4 separate regions of the Homo sapiens genome follow, and all the other regions are reported to be linked to region 2. Evidence: microRNA targets listed by miRTarBase, many of them from high-throughput screens and not tested one by one. Region 2 holds a microRNA gene; each other region holds the end of a gene's coding sequence.

Region 1 (3,000 bases), not on the chromosome of region 2:
TTAATAGGAAGTAAAAGTCTTTCTGGCTTATGCTTAGTTATGTTTTATGACTAAAAATCTCAGTACTGGTGTAGTCTAATGGATGTTAATGTAAACTGGCTTTTTTTCTTGTCTGTGCATTTTTTGGGTAAGTGTTTAGTGGTTTAGCTAACTAAACTATGTATCATCCCAGTAAGCTGTAATGTGTTAGTAGCTATATTATCCTATTGAGATGGTATGGGCAACCCTTCATGTTCTCTTAGCTAGTTAGTGCCTGACAAGAGTGGAAGGTGGTGGTCTTAAGGAAGAAAGCGGCACAGGTAAACACAAGTGAAAACTGTTGTGTTTTTGAAGCAGATAAAAAGCAGAGACTTTTAGGCCTGGAATATTTTCTTACTACTCATTCATTTTAACGTTTACAAAGGAATATATCATTTCACTTAGGAAAATGACTACATTAATTCATACTTTGAAGATGGAGATGATTTTGGCGCAGACAGTGATGACAACATGGATGAGGCAACCTATTAGGCATGAAATTTTTCAAAAAATATTTTTATGATGCAGCTTCTGAACATTTGGACAGACTTGATTTGTATTTTATTTCTGATAAGGAATAAGTACTTGTTTCTGTTGTTTTGGACAAATAGTTGTTACCAAAATATTCAAAACCACTTTGAGTTTACATACTAGTTACCTTAAAAATTATTCCCTGACACTCTGACATTCCTTCTAAACACCTCTGCCATCTCTCTTATGTACTCTCATGGGTTTTTTTGTATGATTTGAATATGAATGTGCCTAAAGAATTTTTGCTCTCTTAATCTATGTATACATACTTGAACAAATCATTCTTGCTTAACTGCTGATCTTTTGTAAAACTATTGCTAGTCATAATGGATTTCTATAACCTGAAAGTTGATATAATACAGCACGTGGAGCACTTTAAAAACAAAGAAACTTGAAAATAATTTTATTTTTTACCTTTACATGGTGTGTTCTAGACTACTGCATTATGACTACATAAACCTACCTGAGCTCTTACAAGTACAGAATTGTGAGACAGAGGTTTTGTGATGGAAAACATACACATAGGGAAAAATACCAAACTGAGCAATATAAATTTCACAGCTCACATCTTAGCCAGTACAAAGAAACTTTCACATGGGGTGAATATTATAATACTTGAATTTGAGACTTAATACTGTATATGAATTAATCATCCCACTGTAATAACTGACATCTTCAAATAGTTGGGCTTATGAAAAATTTGACTAAGACATTTTATTTTATACTTTATGTAAATGTGAAATAAGTTCTGGTCATATAAATATGTAGAATGCATGTGTGTGAACTCTATGAAGTGAAGTGTGGTGGCCTTTTATGTTTCAGAGTACTCAAGTGTACAATTGATTTATATAAAAATGCAAAATGAACTCAGGTCATTTTGAAATTAATATTAATATTTTTGTTGTTTAACTTTAAAGCTAGCTCCCCTAACTTTATATATTTTTTGGGAAAAAATACCTAAAAACCTCAGCCTACAAAGACTCTCAGAAATGCCAAAGATTTTCAAGGAAATTCATATTATATATTTCAAAAATGATTTATCAATGTTATCTACCAAAAGAAATAATTTTATTTTTCCCCTTTGGGGAGATATTATCCTCTAATATGAGAATCAGATCCCTAGATTCTATTTCTACCTATACTATTAAACTCAACCTTGAACCTGAGCTTGGTTGTTTCTGTGCCTTAGTTTCTCCACTCGTAAACAATTTCCTATAAAAATTGTTTAAACACCAACCAAAATTTACCATATGTATTCATTCTCTTGCCTTAAAGATCACTTCTTAACTTACATTTGGCTCTCACCCTCTAAAAATTTGTAGTTTGGAGAGTAACTGAAAGCACAATTTTAAGAAACATGTTTTCCTCACAAAATATATTGTAATCTGATTTTCCTATCTTGTATTCATGCAGAAAATTGGAGAAAATGTGTATTGTCTTGTGCCATTCTGCAATATGAATTTCTCAGGAAAAAGATGTTTCAATGGCAATACTTTCTTAAATAATTCAAGATGGGTGTGAGGACCTATCTTATTAGTTTAGTGCTGTGTTAACCATTTGTGAATTACTTCTTGTTTAAAGGAAGTTGTCAAAAAATTTTAAGATTCTAAATGGAATACACGAATAAAGTAAGCCTTAGAATAGAAACCTCACAAAAAGTTGTCATTTGCGGTTGATAATTAACATAGGTGTTTTATTCTCTCAACTCCTTAGTACCAGAGCCAAATACAATTTAGTTTTCAGAAATCTTATCAATATTGTTCTATTTACCTACTTATAAATCTGCAGATAACCACTTGAACCAGGCAAATACACTGAAGATAAAGGTTATTTCTTTTTTTAGCTTTGAATTTGTCATGACCATTTTAGTCTTGCAGATAGCAGGGCAGCCCCTTGGGGCAAGGATTTACTCTGGGAGGTACCGTTAAGAGCCTTCTTTCCCCCTTTGAAAGATCCTTTTACAATGTTAAAGTATACTAGTTGCAAGAACAAGCAGGATTTGCAGGTTGCTTTACCAGCATGAGTCTCATTTTTCTGGCTTAAAATCTGGGACTGTGAAATTATTCCATAGGAAAGTGAATGTTATTTTGCAGAATTAGCCTCTTACATAAAAGTATTTGTTGAAGTGTCTTTAAAATTGCTATCATGAGCAAAACTGGTTGCTGTAATGCTTGTTTTTCTGTATTTATTTACACATTAAATTCTTACAAAACAAAATGTGTTCGTTTGTTTTATAGTAAGATGTTTTATTTTGAACTTATTTAAATGTTTATTTGTTAGAGAAAACTAATTTGTTAATATAGATCTTAACTAGTAACTATTAAGCAGGGATGTTTGTTCCAAATATTCTTGAATAAACAATCACCACAAACAACAAAACTCTGGTTAATGATTATTCAAAAAAGTTGTTGTGAGATGGGCATGCTGGTCTGTGCCTATAGTCCCAGCTAC
Region 2 (3,236 bases):
AGTTCTCTAGCTGAGCACTGTTGGGGGGTTGGAGAGGGGATGATGGGAAGACTCACTCTCTGCTACATACGTATGCATGAACAATGTGGGCAACGGAAGTTCCTTCTCTTAAACATGCTCACTAGGCATGTGAGTATGAGTTCTGTGTCTTTCTTGACCACCCTGTCTCTCCATGTCTGGTGCATGACAGGAGCGCCACCCCTGCTTGTTAAAGGTGGGAATGAATGAAGGATGGGGATTATAAACAGGTGTTCTTCGCTCTATGCAGAAAAGGCTCAGCCGTGGAATGCTTGCCTGGGTGCACCGCATTGACACAGCACTTGCATCCAGGTACCAGGATTCAAGAGGGGGAACAGGACTGAAGGCCCAAGCAGCCATACAGAGTATGTGTGTGTGCACGTGTGCGTGTGTGCACATGTGCTCACATGGGTTTACAGGGAAGGCTCACCGCATATAGTGTGTTCATCTGTGACTGTACAGAAAAGTAATGAAAGGATCTCTCCTATACAGAGCAGCAAGAAGGAAAGTAGCAGTAAGAAGACTTCCCTCATTTAATCCCCATCTATAAGGGAGTTAAGGAAGCTCACTGGCTTGCACGCTGAGAATGGGAGAGAGGAGAGCACAACAGGCTCCATCTCCTACCCTTTCAGTAGGTGGGGTTCTCTGCATGCAGGGCCATGTCTCTGAGTGTGTCTGGTGTACAAGGATTGGGGACATTTGAGAATTTCACTTGAGCAGAACCTGCACATGCTTGTGCATGCAGACTGGGTAACAAGGAACATATAGATCTACTTCATTCTTTTGAACAGTGGCCTATTCATCCACAACATTTATGTATAGTGTGTTTATGAGTCCCTACCAGAATGTAGGGTAGCAACCTGTCCATTTTGATCCCTGCTATATCCTTGGTGATGAACATAATACCTGCTGTCTAATAGACACTTGAGTATCTGTGGAAGGAAGAGGAGGGAGAGTTGATGTGCAAAAGCTCTGTCCTTTTAAGTGTAGACAAGGCTTCTTCCCTTGGAATTCTTGAAAAGGGACAGTGAGTCAAGGCAGTACTGGCACACAGGCTGAAAGAATGTGAGTGATGCACCAGGTCAGAGGGACCACTCTGTGAGGACATGTCTCTGTGGATGTAACCAAGTCAGGCCCTTTCTCTTGCACACAGCGTATTTATGTGTGATTGTACTGAGGTTTAGTAGATTCTCCAACATGTATCTGTACCCCACCCACCCTGTACCCCACCCACCCTCAGGACATGCAGATATAATGAATGAGAAGGAGTCCATTCTCCTCCCTGAACTGTACACTCCATGAAGGTAGGGAACCAGATATGGCTCATTCTCTTGTGGGCCAACTGCCCAGGACAGCACCTGCAATAGAGTAGGTAGGTACTCAACAAATAGTCATAGAAAGGATGGAAGGAGGAGGTAGAAGTGCTCTGTCCTATGCGAAGATGTCACTCCCCCTTGCAGAATCCTTGCCTGGGTGCACTGCATTCAGAAAGCACTCTCACCCAGGTAGCAAGGATTAGAGAGGGGGAACCAGGACAGGAGATTCCAGTACCTGTACACCTCACATGTGCATCTAACAAGAAGGCTTGCTGTTCTTGCCTAGTGCATTAACCTTGCATTGAACTAAAGTAGAGAGAAGTTGCTTCGACAAGTATCAGGCTGGGTGCAGTGGCTCACACCTATAATCCCAACACTTTGGGAGGCTAAGGCTGGTGGACTGCTTGAGCCTAGGAGTTTGAGACCAGCTTGGGCAACATAGTGAGACCCCATCTCTACAAAAAATAAACACAAATTAGCCAGGCATGGTGGCACAAGCCTGTGGTCCCAGCTATTTGAGAGGCTGAGGTGGGAGGATCGCTTGAGCCCAGGTGGTTGAGGCTGCAGTGAACTGTGATGGTGCCAGTGCACTCCAGCCTGAGCAACAGAGCAATACTCCATCAAAAAAGAAAGAAAAGAAAAGAGAGAAGAAAAGAAAGGAAAGGAAAGGAAGGAAAGAAAGAAAAGAAAGAGAAAGAAAAAGAAAAGAAGGAAGGAAGGAAAGAAGGAAAAAACAAGAAACAAGTATCAATGTGACAGCAGGAATGAGAAGACTCACACTTATGGGTGGGTTAAGGTGGGAAGAGGGTAGATAAGAAGTTCCTATGTGGCCCACTCACCCTCAGTATATGCAGGGGCAATGAGTGGTGACAAAGTCCATTCTCCTCTCAGGCTATAATATCCAGGAAGGCAGGGGCGAAGTCTGCCTTGTTCATTTCTCTGTGTCCAATGCCCATCATGGTGCCCAATACATATTATTTGTGGAAGGAAAGAATGAATGAGGGTCAGAGAGCAGGCAGGCAAGCAGCAAGCAGCTGAGAGGTGACATACAGATCTTCTGTTCTCCACGCAGAGGGGGCTCACCCTCTCAGAATCCTTGCCCGGGTGCATTGCATTCAGAAAGCACTCTCACCCAGGGACAAAGGATTAGAGAGGAAGAGCAGAGCAGAAGACTCAGGCACCTGCACCCTGCATGTATATCTCCATATATATTTGACTTTCATGGTCCCATTCCTGCAAAGTATCTCTGTGTGCATTTGCTAAGACAGATGCCTCTCCTCAGGGATAGCATATGTATTCATCCCCCTGCACAAGGCCACATGGACATGCCCTCTCAGACAAAACCTCAGACTAGAATGAAAGATATGAGTGGCATCTTTTTCAGATCACACTTGAGGGTCTGCAGGTGCTGGATGTATTTGGGGCCTAGCAAGGAGGTTGGGACAAACTGTATGTGGGCACACATGTACATGCACATGTTGGAAGATGGTACAGAAAATTGGGATACTTCATTCTCTTCTGTTTCTCTGGTAAACTATAAGCTCACTGAGAGCAAAGACTGGCTGTGCAAGTCTCATCACCCAATGTGTGTTTCCCCATTACAGTATCTGACACATAGTAAGCTGGGAGTAAACAGAAAGCTCATGCTCTCAAAGAGGTGTAAGCTTGTCCAGGGCAATGATGAAGTTCATTCTCCCACAGGTGCCCTCTACAGAGCCCAGGGACCTTAGCTGTCTTATTTACCGTTGTATCTCCACCACCCAGTGCAGGATCTGGCACCGCATAGCAAACACAAACATGTGAAAGAAGGGGACAGGTTGTTGGTCCTTCTACATGTAGACAAGGCTCAGCCTCTTTGAATCCTTGAATAGGTGTGTTGCACTGAAATAGCACTCACACCTA
Region 3 (3,000 bases), not on the chromosome of region 2:
AGTGGAGATAAATTATCTACCAACTTTAAAAATCTAAACTTATGTTCACTGAACAAAAATAAATTTAGTTTCAGAACATTGCCTGTTAACGGCAAAGTACTATAAATAGTGCATGTTAAACTCTTCCCAACAACTCATTTCTATAAAATATTTGATTAAAAATAAAATGAGTGAAACATTCAATACAGAGGGGAAGACACGAACATCTTTTCAAATACAGAATAACTCACAGGAAATTTAAATAAAATCTAAATATTTTAAAAAATACCATACCAAAAAAGCCTCTAAGGTAGATTTGCCTCAAACATTTTAGTGCATTTAGAATAACTGTAGCTTCTTAGCATCAAAACCTTTGGGATATCAACTGTGCTCTTTAAGTCATGGCAAAATTATAATTTTACATTCTAGTATGTAATTATGAAAAAAATCTTTTCCATGTTTAAATTAAAATGCACCTTCACAACATCCATGGTCAGTTGTTAGAAAAAAATGCATTTGACAGAATACAGAGTTAATAAGCTGGTTTTAACAAGGGAGTTCTCTTTGTTTCATGAAAATTTTCATTTTCTATTTTGGGGTACTGCTTTTATCTGAAGAATAAAAATGGGAAAAAATAACCACAAAAACTTCCAAATGACAACCTGTTTCTTTCTGGCAACTGATAAATACTAAAGCCAAGTTACACACTTGGAAACTACTGCAGTAAAATGGATCTGAGCAGTCTGTGATTTAAACAACAATGTAACAGAATTGTAGAATTTTAAAGTACAAGATTTGACAAAGAAGAGAGTTCCAGTTTGGAGAAAGTGTCCTTGATGCTGCTCTTTAAACAATGCAGTAGCTTAGACTGGATGCTAAACTGCAAGAACTCATTACAGTGGCTTTCTAGCATCTGAAAGGGAAAGCAGAGATTCCATTAACTTGGCACTTGGGGGTTTTGTGGGTACATACCACCAATATTTCCCTTTCCTTTACTATTAGAGTTCTTTTTTGGTTAATAGATGCTTACTATTCTCTTTAAGATGCCAATTAGGGGCACATTCAACATATGAACAAAATTAAAAATAGAATTTTTGCAAAGTACACAGAAAAGAAACCAAGTTAGTAACAATGTATTTTATTGTTTGACCAAGCTCTCTTCAGAGTACGTGAGTTATTACACAATATAAAAACAATAGCCTCCTATTCAAAATGAATTACTCTATATTTAGTAAGTCTTATTTTTATAAACAAATTAAATGTCATGTTTAGATGCATTTTATATTCACTTCCACACCTTTTTATCCTTTCTTACTAAAGCGATGATTTAGTTTCTACACAGTTTCGTCACTGTACATGAAGACTGGTAAAACTGCAAATAAGAATTACAATTTGAAGTCACAGAAAATATTTTAAATGGCTAATTCTGAAGAGGAGACAAGAATCCATTTTGGACATGTTCTCAGTTTTGTAAATATGACTTCACTATCACATTCTCTCATGTGTTTCCATACCCACCTTTTCTTGGAAATTATGGGCAGAAAATGGATAGAAGGAAGGAAAAGGAATCTTGAGAAATTTGTTTGGAGGCTGCATTTTAATAATAAGGATGACTTCACTTTATCTCTTTGGTCATCAAAGGAATAGGAAGAATAAGAGATTCTCATTATAGTTATCCACCTCACCTAACAGTAATGATATCAGAATGAAGGATTTAAATGAAAGTCAAACTGACAGGGGAAAAAGGCATCTAGCACTCTAGTGTATTTACCTGTGAAAATAAAAATCCAGTGGAAAACTGACATGTGTTTAGACATTGAATAAACAAGTTATTTTAAATATTAAAAGAATTTTCAATTTCAAGTCTTAACTGTTTTACATTTCCTCTTGTGGAAAAAAGAAAATTTTTACTAAACTGAAATAGCTTTACTATTATCAGTTGAAATGAAACTACCGATTCAACTTAAGGAATGTGAACTAAATGATATTTCAATTAATAGCAATTTTTAAGGCAATTTCTGTACTAAACACTGAAATGAGTAGTAATAAATTCTGTAATTTATTCTACCATTTTGAAATATGGCAGAAATAACATCCAGTTCAATGCATATTGAAACATCAAAAGTATGGATAAGCCTTGAAGTTTTTATGGACCATAAATGTGAGAAATTCAAATGAACATCTTGTAAGATTATGACTGCACTCCAATTCTCCAATGTCGAAAGGAAAGGAAAAAAGAGACACCAATGTGTCTAACTGTTCTAATATATAAATGACCCTGACCAGATTTTTATGAAAAAAAGGGGAAATTTTATTCCACTGACAAATTTATATTCTATAAATATAATGTATAAGCCTTGAATTAGCAGACACTTTATTAGGGATGACCAAAACAAAAAACAAAAAAAACCAAACCACAAAAACAGCAAAACTAAGTAAAATATGACTATTTTCAATCAATGTTGGTTATGTTGCCCTCTTGCAAAATGACAGGCAAAATCATACTTGTTTTTACATTTGCATCCACATATATTACACTGAAAAGGATTTTCATACCCATGACATCCCATATGAATAGTGTAAAGGATGTTGTCTGCAAAGTACATATCACAGTGCTGGCAGTGGTGCAGAAGCTGAGGGTCCTGGACCGGCAGGGCTGGGGCTGGGGTGCTTGGCTGGCTGTTTCCTATGCTGGGAGTGCTCGTGTGGGCACTTGGCTCACTGCTTGGACCTGCCACTGGACTATAGTTCCTTTGACTATGGGATGGCCGAGGTTCTGGGCTTGTGGGAGAGGAGCTCTGAGGAATACTTGCTGATACGGCAGAAACTACTGCTTGGGTAGAGGGCTGCTGAATCATGAAAGGCTTTTCATCAGGGCAGGGAACTACATCAGGGGATGCAGGGTTTTGGTTTTCGGGTGGCAGACTGGACAACTGCCCTGCTAGAGTCGAGAGCTGATTCAAAGGGTTATCAACCATGAGTTCTTGGGGGTCCCTTGGAAGGCCACCAGTTGGTGTGGTT
Region 4 (3,236 bases), not on the chromosome of region 2:
GTGCTATTTCTTTCCAGCATCGGGGAACAAGTATTTACATATAACAGCTGTCCACTCTTATTACTACCTAGGGCAGAGGTCTCCAAACCCTGGGCCACGGACCAGTACTGATGGGTGGCCTGTTAGGAACCGGGCCACACAGCAGGAGGTGAGTGGCAGTGGGGCAGGGTAGTGTGGGGAGCAAGCATTCCCACCTGAGCTCTGCCTCCTGCCAGATCAGCAGTGGCATTAGATCCGCATAGGAACATGAAACCTACTATGAACTGTGCATGCGAGGGATCTAGGCTGTGAACTCCTTATGAGAATCTAATGCCTGATGATCTGAGGTGGGACATTTCATCCCAAAACCATCCCCCCAACCCCCATCCATGGAAAAATTGTCTTACATGAAACCAGTCCATGATGCCAAAAAGGTTGGGGACCACTGACCTGGGGACTGTGGAGTGAGTCCCCAGGAGGCAGGCTGCAGCCTAGCCCAGGCCTGGTTTGGGGCCTGAGAGGTGATGAGTTGGAGGCTGGGGAGGAAGAGCGCCTGGCCTGGAAGACTGAAGGCCAAAGCCCGAACTGCCCAGAGAAGTACTGGAGGGCCTGAGGCCGCACCCAGAGCTCCCTTTGCCAACCCTCCTAATCCAGCTCTGAGCAAAACAGCTTCTGGGGCCAGGCAAGCAGGGCCCTGGCTCGGCTGCATTCTTGAGGGCCTCAAGGCTTGCTGCACCTTCCCTGGCTCCAGTCTCAGCGTGGCCTCATCTGGCAACAGGCCTGGGACACTCAGCCTCCCTGAGCTCACTTCCTCATCTGCACAGTGAGGAATTCGGCTGGGATGGTCATTAACGGCCTGCTATCTCCTAACACGCCCGGCGTCAGAGCTCAGAACTCCCCTGCATCCCAGGAAGATGCCCACTCAACCTCCCCTGGGCCACTGGAGGCCCGAGAGGAGCATGAGGCCAGCAGCGGGGGCACCTGCCAGGCAAGAGGAGCCCCCAGGGATCTCCATCAGCTGCTTCCCAGCCAGGCTGGCACTCCCACACCAGGCAGGAGCCCCAGCACACCGCTCTCTGCAGGCATAGTGTAGCTGGGGAGGGCAGTGGTTAGGGTGCGGGGACTCTAAACTAAGCTGCTGTATTCAAACTTGACTTCTCCCTTCCCTGGCTTGGTGCCCTAAGATATCTAACCTCTGTGTGCCTCAGTTTCCCATTCTGTAAAGCACAGAGTATGAGGAGTCCAAGACAGTGACCTAAAGCTTTCTGCTGCAGCCCAGGATCCTATACTAGTGGCTAGGAGACCCTATACTAGCAGCTAGGAGACCCTGCCAGACTCATGCCTGCCCCAAGGCCTGCCCAGCCACCCCTGGTGCCAGCTCCCAGAACTTGGCACAGCATCACCCCCTCCCAAAGCCCCCCCATAGGTTGGGTTTGGGTGCCCCACCCAGACCTCTTCCAACCCCCGACATGGGCCACATCCTGTCTTCACTGCCTGGTGACTCATCTGCTTACCCACCCCCCACCCGTGCTCCCATCCGAGGCTGAGCGCAGTCATACTAAGTGCCCCTCTGCGGCCTGGCACAGAGCCAGGGCCGAGCATCCCTGGAGTGAAGGAGCTTCCACCTGTGATGCAGGTGGGAAGCGGGAGGCCTCACCCCTTTCTCCTGGTTCCCACCCCGGCTCCCACACAGGTGCAGGTCAGAGAGGAGGCAGGAAAGTGGTGTGTAAACAGCCACATTATTGGCATAGCCCTGGGTGAAAAAGTGTCAGTAGTTTCACTGGACCCCCAGCCTGGTCAGCCCCGAGGTAGGGCTGGAGGAATCAGGTCTCCTGGGTTTACACTGAGCAGGGATGGGGATGGAAAGGACAGAGGTGGCCCCAGGGCCCAAACACAGCTTTGAAAGTAGTGGAGGCCCACCGACTCACTGGAGGGCCAGGGTGAAAGCTCTGCCCAGCTAGTGTGGGTGGCTTCTGCCCCAAGAGCAAGAGAGAATCAGGCCTCAGGGTTGGAGGAGGCTGGTCCCATCCCAGGAGCACCCACAAGGACTGAGTATGCTGCTGAGTGGCTTCTCCAGCATACGGCCTTGGAGGTCATCCAGTCCTCACAGCCATCCTCCCTGAGCAGGTGCTGGCTCCTCCACGCAGCCTGCCCCTCCAGTGGGGCCCCAGGCCTGCAGCTCACCCTGCTCCCACCTTCCAGAAGGCTTTCCCTTCCCCACTGGATGCCTTCCGGTTCTCTCCAGCGCCTCTGACTGCCAGGGGGTGGGGGGGATGCGGGCACCAGGCCATGCTGTCCGGGCCACATTCCTCAGGCCACCCTCCGGCTGTTCTTGCACCTTCCATTCCAGCTGTGGGCAGGACAAGCCTGGTTCTCCCCACCGCCCTCAGTCTGCAAGCTGTGCCTCTGTTAGCACAGCCAGGGGCCATGTCCGTCCTCGAAGCCTGGCTGCCCTCCCTCCTCAGGGTCCCACAGCCCGGCTGCTGTTCCTGCTGGTGTCTGAAACGCTTGGAGGTAAGAAAGGAACTCCTCCCGCCCATGATGGACCATGCACTTCCAGAGCCCACACCGCCCCCAACACACACTCCTGCCTTGGGTCTGCAGAGGACACACATGCACTGCAGCGCCTCACACATGTCCCCAGGACAGCACACACCCGCACCCCCTTCACTCTAGAACACGTGTGCACCCGCTGGGCGCACACAGGGCGGAGCGGCCCCTGCCAGGCTCCCCCGCCGGCGGGATGGCCTGGGGCAGCGGCGTGTTGCCTACAGGTCGGGGTTCTGGTGGCTGCACACGACGCCCGCATCCTCGTCGTGCTCGCAGTTGTGGGTGCCCACGCCGTTGTGCTGGCACTCCAGCAGGTTCCGCTCCCAGCCCGCGCAGCGCACATCGTCCAGCAGAATGGGCAGCGAGCCGCCCTGGCCGAACTCGGCTCTCTTGACGGCGCGCACGGCGTAGGCAAACCCCAGCTGGCGACACACGACGGCGGCGCCGCTGATGTTCCAGGAGTCGTCGCACACGGTGCCCCAGCGTCCGCCCACGAACACCTCCACGCGCCCGCTGCCAGAGCTCAGGCCCGCGGGCCGCACCAGGCGCACCTCGCCATCCCGGAACGCCCGGCTCGCCGAGTTCAGCCGCCCCCGCCGCCGCCCGCCGCCCCTCCGGCTCCCTGGCTGCTGGGTGGGCCGCGCTGGCCGCGGGGTTGGCGCGGGGGGAGCGGCCGTGGGGCGCCCTCGGCGGGGCGCCCGCGTGGG

The links. The annotated mature microRNA hsa-miR-500b-5p reads AAUCCUUGCUACCUGGGU and lies in region 2 at 1,518-1,535, opposite strand. An mRNA with a match to its seed (bases 2 to 7 or 8) in the 3' UTR can be bound and repressed. Matches are read on the target gene's strand: a 7mer-m8 pairs with bases 2 to 8, a 7mer-A1 pairs with bases 2 to 7 and ends in A, and an 8mer does both.
Region 1: the mRNA of POLR3G is a reported target of hsa-miR-500b-5p. Seed matches in the 3' UTR shown: 7mer-m8 at 2,449-2,455.
Region 3: miRTarBase lists IKZF5 as a target of hsa-miR-500b-5p. Seed matches in the 3' UTR shown: 7mer-A1 at 1,282-1,288.
Region 4: the mRNA of HHIPL1 is a reported target of hsa-miR-500b-5p. The part of its 3' UTR that is shown has no 7-base or 8-base seed match.

What each region holds. Positions count from the first base shown.
Region 1 is chr5:90,511,630-90,514,629 of GRCh38, forward strand. POLR3G (RNA polymerase III subunit G) reads left to right here. Exons shown (of 8, transcript NM_006467.3): 8 at 424-2,928. The coding sequence ends at 510. Among named protein-coding and RNA genes, the nearest start is that of LYSMD3, 16 kb to the right of the region's middle.
Region 2 is chrX:50,008,981-50,012,216 of GRCh38, reverse strand. It overlaps MIR500B (microRNA 500b), which reads right to left and starts at 1,545; the gene lies at 1,467-1,545. The region is part of intron 3 of CLCN5 (chloride voltage-gated channel 5); the gene reads right to left. MIR501 (microRNA 501) reads right to left here and starts at 2,495; the gene lies at 2,412-2,495. MIR362 (microRNA 362) reads right to left here; the gene lies at 3,189-3,236.
Region 3 is chr10:122,991,345-122,994,344 of GRCh38, forward strand. It overlaps IKZF5 (IKAROS family zinc finger 5), which reads right to left. Exons shown (of 5, transcript NM_001372123.1): 5 at 1-3,000. The coding sequence ends at 2,436. Among named protein-coding and RNA genes, the nearest start is that of PSTK, 12 kb to the left of the region's middle.
Region 4 is chr14:99,675,138-99,678,373 of GRCh38, reverse strand. HHIPL1 (HHIP like 1) reads right to left here. Exons shown (of 9, transcript NM_001127258.3): 9 at 1-3,236. The coding sequence ends at 2,748. Among named protein-coding and RNA genes, the nearest start is that of CYP46A1, 7.5 kb to the left of the region's middle. RefSeq lists enhancers at 1,028-1,590, 1,591-2,154, 2,718-3,236.